2 separate regions of the Homo sapiens genome follow, and region 2 is linked to region 1. Evidence: fine-mapped expression QTL. A gene starts in region 1. The other region holds a variant in brackets. All regions are shown on one strand. Distances are from middle to middle. Region 1 holds the start of MRPS18C (mitochondrial ribosomal protein S18C). Region 2 overlaps LINC02994 (long intergenic non-protein coding RNA 2994).

Region 1 (2,926 bases):
CTAGGACTACAGGTGCAGGCCACCACACCCGGCTAATTAAGAAAAAAAAATTTTTTTTTTTTTTTGTAGAGACTGGGTCTCTGTTGCCTAGGCTGGTTTTGAACGCGAACTTCTGGGCTTAAGTGATCCTCCCATCTCTGCCTCCTAAAGCACTGGGATTATAGGCATGAGCCACTGCACACGGCCAGATTGTAATTCTTAAAGCTGTACTAAAACAGCAGGAAGACTGGTAGACGTCTACTGAAATGTCAGCGCATTCGAAGTTTCTGATAACTGCAGCGCTTCCCTCCCAGACTACAATCTACAGTGACTGGCCTCTAACAGAAACATGGTTGTACCACTAGACACTCCAAGGAGTTCCTAGGAATTTGGAATTGAGACTGAGAAACTGAATACTGACTTGGAGTGGTCTGCTACACAGAAGACACACAAACCTGGAGGCAGCAATATAGTAAAGTGATTAAGACAACAGGATTTGGAGCAAGAACTGTACTATCTCAACTTTTCAGGGCCTGATTACTGTCGTAAAATCTAGATAATATAACTAGCTTAACATAACGGGTCTTCAATAAACAGCAGATTTTATTTGTACAGTAGGAGCTGCAGTTATCTGGAAGCCTAGATTTGTGTCTCAGTCATGCCACTTAACTGCTGCGTGCACAACTTTTATGTCTCGGGGTTTACATTTCATATTTATATAGAAATGTAAATAACAAGGCAATCAATACCTCCTAAGTGCCGATTAACAGTGGTAACGAAGACGAGAGAAGTAAACGAAGGCGATAAAACTGGTCAACTCTTTGCATCTGGGAAGGATGCCAAAAGTTTGCAGTTTCAAGTTCCAAGTCCTCCGTACCTGGTCTCCCACCCCTCTGTCAGTGGGCATGTGACGTAGGAGGTCCGGGTTTGTATCACCACCTCCAAGGACGAGACATTCCGGGGAATCTGAGAGTAGAAGGGGCTGTACCTCAACCGGCAGTACGCCCGCGGTTTTCCGCCTCCTGTTCTCAGCCACCATTTCCTCCTCCTCTTTCCCCTCATCTCCGGGCACGAGCTCGGCCGCGGTGGGAGCGCCAAAAATACACCCCAAGCTTGGACGGTTCCTTTTGGGGAGAGACACCCGCCGGCGGATGCGGGAACCACATTCATCCATGGCAAGGACCCAGGGCCCTATTCAGACGTCGTTCTCAGTGACCCAGACGCTAAGCCCATATGGAAGGGAGAGTGGGACGCCGGAGCCCGCTTCTACATCCACCTTGGGAAAAGACCCCAAGTTAGCTCTCAGGGCTCGCGGACCGGAAGCACGCATAAACTTCTACCCTGTCCAATCATAAGCCTCACGTGACCTGCCGCGTAGGGAGGGCACGAACAGAAAGGTGCTGCGCATGCGTATTGAAAAACCTCACCTACTCTCGCGGGTCCTCAGCGTTCTCCTGCGGAACCTTTGAACGGGGTACTCGAGCCCACAGGGGAAGAGCAGCGGAAGGGGCCTTTCGGAACGATTTGGAACGAAAGGAAGTGGAAGAAACGCGGAACCATGGCCGCTGTGGTTGCTGTTTGCGGTGGTCTAGGGAGGAAGAAGTTGACACACTTGGTAACGGCTGCTGTCAGCCTTACACATCCCGGGACTCACACGGGTAAAGTCTCCATATCCTATGCTCCATTGTAGCGCTGCAGGCATTAACCTTAGTCCTAATGGTTAGAGTCGTCCCTGTTAGCAAAACGACTCTGGTTTCTAGGCGATTAAGTTTCTCCAAGATGGGTGGGAATCTGTAATTGCCTTTGACTGTTTTAGTGTCGTCTAATCCACTCCTTTAAAGTATTTAAACGTATGAGGAAGTTGGAGTGGTTCTTAAAAAGCAGAGACTTTCCTAAGATCTCTGGATAATCTTAGTGAGGAAGGGACATTTCCAGAGTCGCCCAGCAGCAAATTCCAGATGTCTAAGGTCCCCAAACAGAACAAAATTGCATAATTTTTGCAATTTTATCTTCTCTGTGCTTCTCTATAAATTCTTTCTGGGACGGGTCTGTTACTTTCTTTTTGGTATGACAGTGCCTTTCTGTTGCTTCTCCTATAAGAATTTGCATTAAGAATTTTCTCTAACCATGGAATGAAGGGAAAATAAATGTCAGAAAGAGCAGGTATGGGCGGGAAAATATGTTCTTTTCCCCCTAAGCCCTGGAAAGCACACCCATGTTGAGTCTTACTCTGTCCCAAATATAAAAGTTTTTAACCATTCTGAATATAATACAAAACCTTTCTTTAATATCGTGTCCCTTAATTCATCCTGTCTCCATAAAAACAAAAATCTTTAGCTATTCAGCTAAGAAAAAGAAATGGTTAATTGCTGTTTCTGTTTAATCGCAGTGCTTTGGAGAAGAGGTTGTTCACAACAGGTATCCAGCAATGAGGACCTGGTAAGAATTTTTTTTTCTATTAGTAAGGCCTTTGCAAATATGACCAAAATGTTTTTCTTTTTAAAACGAGATCTGGTATTAGACTCTAACATCTTTTATTTTAGCTACTTGAATAGAGTTCTGCCGTAGGACAAAACAATTTGATAATTACTCTGAGTTCAGAAATGATGATGAATTGATTGTAGTCATGTAGTCAGCTGAGTTTTGAAGTAGGGGAATTCCTAGATTAGAAGCAAAGCTGCTATAATACCATATTTTTCTTCCTAGATCTTAAATTTAAGGATATGTGATTTGGGAATTGTTTTTTTTTTTTTTACATAGCCCTTTGTAAGCAAATGATATGGGAATTTTAAAAGGTAGTTTGGGTGAGCAGAATTTTAGATAACTGAAAAGAGACTGTACAAAGCTTAGCTATAGGTTGGCTATAGTATTAACATGGACTTTCTGAAAGCACAGGTTCTTGCTACATGCAAAGGTATTTTGACACTAATTAGACCATACAAAGCAC
Region 2 (2,926 bases), 680 kb after region 1:
GTATATCTAGAAAACCCCATTGTCTCAGCCCAAAAGCTCCTTAAGCTGATAAGCAACTTCAGCAAAGTCTCAGGATACAAAATCAATGTACAAAAATCACAAGCATTCTTATACACCAACAACAGACAAACAGAGAGCCAAATCGTGAGTGAACTTCCATTCACAATTGCTTCAAAGAGAATAAAATATCTAGGAATCCAACTTACAAGGGATGTGAAGGACCTCTTCAAGGAGAGCTACAAACCACTGCTCAAGGAAATAAAAGAGGATACAAACAAATGGAAGAACATTCCATGCTCATGGGTAGGAAGAATCAATATCATGAAAATGGCCATACTGCCCAAGGTAATTTACAGATTCAATGCCATCCCCATCAAGCTACCAATGACTTTCTTCACAGAATTGGAAAAAACTACTTTAAAGTTCATATGGAACCAAAAAAGAGCCCGCATCACCAAGTCAATCCTAAGCCAAAAGAACAAAGCTGGAGGCATCACACTACCTGACTTCAAACTATACTACAAGGCTACAGTAACCAAAACAGCACGGTACTGGTACCAAAACAGAGATATAGATCAATGGAACAGAACAGAGCCCTCAGAAATAACGCCGCATATCTACAACTATCTGATCTTTGACAAACCTGAGAAAAACAAGCAATGGGGAAAGGATTCCCTATTTAATGAATGGTGCTGGGAAAACTGGCTAGCCATATGTAGAAAGCTGAAACTGGATCCCTTCCTTACACCTTATACAAAAATCAATTCAAGATGGATTAAAGACTTAAACGTTAGACCTAAAACCATAAAAACCCTAGAAGAAAACCTAGGCATTACCATTCAGGACATAGGCATGGGCAAGGACTTCATGTCTAAAACACCAAAAGCAATGGCAACAAAAGACAAAATTGACAAATGGGATCTAATTAAACTAAAGAGCTTCTGCACAGCAAAAGAAACTACCATCAGAGTGAACAGGCAACCTACAAAATGGGAGAAAATTTTCGCAACTTACTCATCTGACAAAGGGCTAATATCCAGAATCTACAAGGAACTTAAACAAATTTACAAGAAAAAAACAAACAACCCCATCAAAAAGTGGGCAAAGGACATGAACAGACACTTCTCAAAAGAAGACATTTATGCAGCGAAAAAACACATGAAAAAATGTTCATCATCACTGGCCATCAGAGAAATGCAAATCAAAACCACAATGAGATACCATCTCGCACCAGTTAGAATGGCAATCATTAAAAAGTCAGGAAACAACAGGTGCTGGAGAGGATGTGGAGAAATAGGAACACTTTGACACTGTTGGTGGGACTGTAAACTAGTTCAACCATTGTGGAAGTCAGTGTGGCGATTCCTCAGGGATCTAGAACTAGAAATACCATTTGACCCAGCCATCCCATTACTGGGTATATACCCAAAGGACTATAAATCATGCTGCTATAAAGACACATGCACACGTATGTTTATTGCGGCATTATTCACAATAGCAAAGACTTGGAACCAACCCAAATGTCCAACAGTGATAGACTGGATTAAGAAAATGTGGCACATATACACCAT[A/G]GAATACTATGCAGCCATAAAAAATGATGAGTTCATGTCCTTTGTAGGGACATGGATGAAATTGGAAATCATCATTGTCAGTAAACTATCGCAAGAACAAAAAAACAAACACTGCATATTCTCACTCATAGGTGGGAATTGAACAATGAGATCACATGGACACAGGAAGGGGAATATCACGCTCTGGGGACTGTTGTGGGGTAGGGGGAGGGGGGAAGGATAGCATTGGGAGATATACCTAATGCTAGATGACGAGTTAGTGGGTGCAGCGCACCAGCATGGCACATGTATACATATGTAACTAACCTGCACAATGTGCACATGTACCCTAGAACTTAAAGTATAATAATAAAAAAAAAAGTTTATCAAGAGAGTAATATAGTAAAAGTGACATTTTGAAAATGACTCTTCTGATAGAAGCATTTAATAAGCTCTTACAACATGCCAAGCACTACACTAAGCATAAACATGTTGCCTCAATGCAAGATGGACTTAGAATGGAGGCCCAGCTGTGACAAGAATGCACATTTGAGAATCTGGGCCATGTCTGATTGCCTGTCTTGTTTTTGTTGCCCCAAACAAACAAAGAAACAACAAAGGCAGGGAAAAGTGTAATAGCCAAAGTAATAACTGGCAGCTGCACAAGCCCTCGGTCAGGTTCATGTCATTACAGGAGTCCCTGGTGCCCCACACTTCCTAAAGGCAGAAGAGCCACAGAATGGCAATGAATATGTGAAGGTGAGCCTGGGTGGTTAGGTCATTTCTTCAGGAAGAAAAGACAGAAATAAAATTAGAACAGGGTGAAAAAAAAAAAAAAAGAAAGAAATTAAACACTGACTAGATCTATTAAAGAAATCACATCAGTCGTACAACTTGCCCTCAAATAAAAGCAAAGGACTCATACAATTTCACAGATTTTGCAGGCCTTCCAAGGAAAAAACTTCTATTTATATAAATTGTTTTATGGGCTAGAAAAAGGAACAAGAGCTCTCCAACTTATTTTAGAAATAATAATATATATTTCATACATAAAATGGATTAGGAAAGTACAAAGAAGAAAATTTATAAGCTATGCTTTATTACAGAAGCAAAAATCCTAAATAACATATTAGTCAATGATTCCAGAAATATTTTTTTAAATTAATTATGACCAAAGAAGACTCATTCTGGATCTGAAAGAATGATTTATAATTAAGAAATCTATTAAGTAATTTAATACATTAACTCATTAAAAGTTATTATTTGTTGTCTCATAAGTGCAGGAAGATTTATTACCTAAAATTCAACAACCATTAATGATTTCAAAAAACCTTATACTCACAATAAATTAAATTTCCTGAATATGATGAAAGATA

What was found. PIP is the estimated chance that this variant, and not a neighbour inherited with it, causes the effect.
Region 2: its variant is fine-mapped to the expression of MRPS18C in lymphoblastoid cells (GTEx, PIP 0.97).

What each region holds. Positions count from the first base shown.
Region 1 is chr4:83,454,541-83,457,466 of GRCh38, forward strand. MRPS18C (mitochondrial ribosomal protein S18C) reads left to right here and starts at 1,518. Exons shown (of 6, transcript NM_016067.4): 1 at 1,518-1,637; 2 at 2,369-2,418. The coding sequence starts at 1,538. It overlaps HELQ (helicase, POLQ like), which reads right to left and starts at 1,283. Exons shown (of 18, transcript NM_133636.5): 1 at 857-1,283. The coding sequence starts at 1,153. RefSeq lists enhancers at 531-1,361, 790-839, 1,180-1,289, 1,276-1,570.
Region 2 is chr4:84,130,884-84,133,809 of GRCh38, forward strand. The region is part of intron 7 of LINC02994 (long intergenic non-protein coding RNA 2994); the gene reads right to left. Among named protein-coding and RNA genes, the nearest start is that of LINC02994, 170 kb to the right of the region's middle. The variant A/G (reference allele first, on the strand shown) is at 1,572.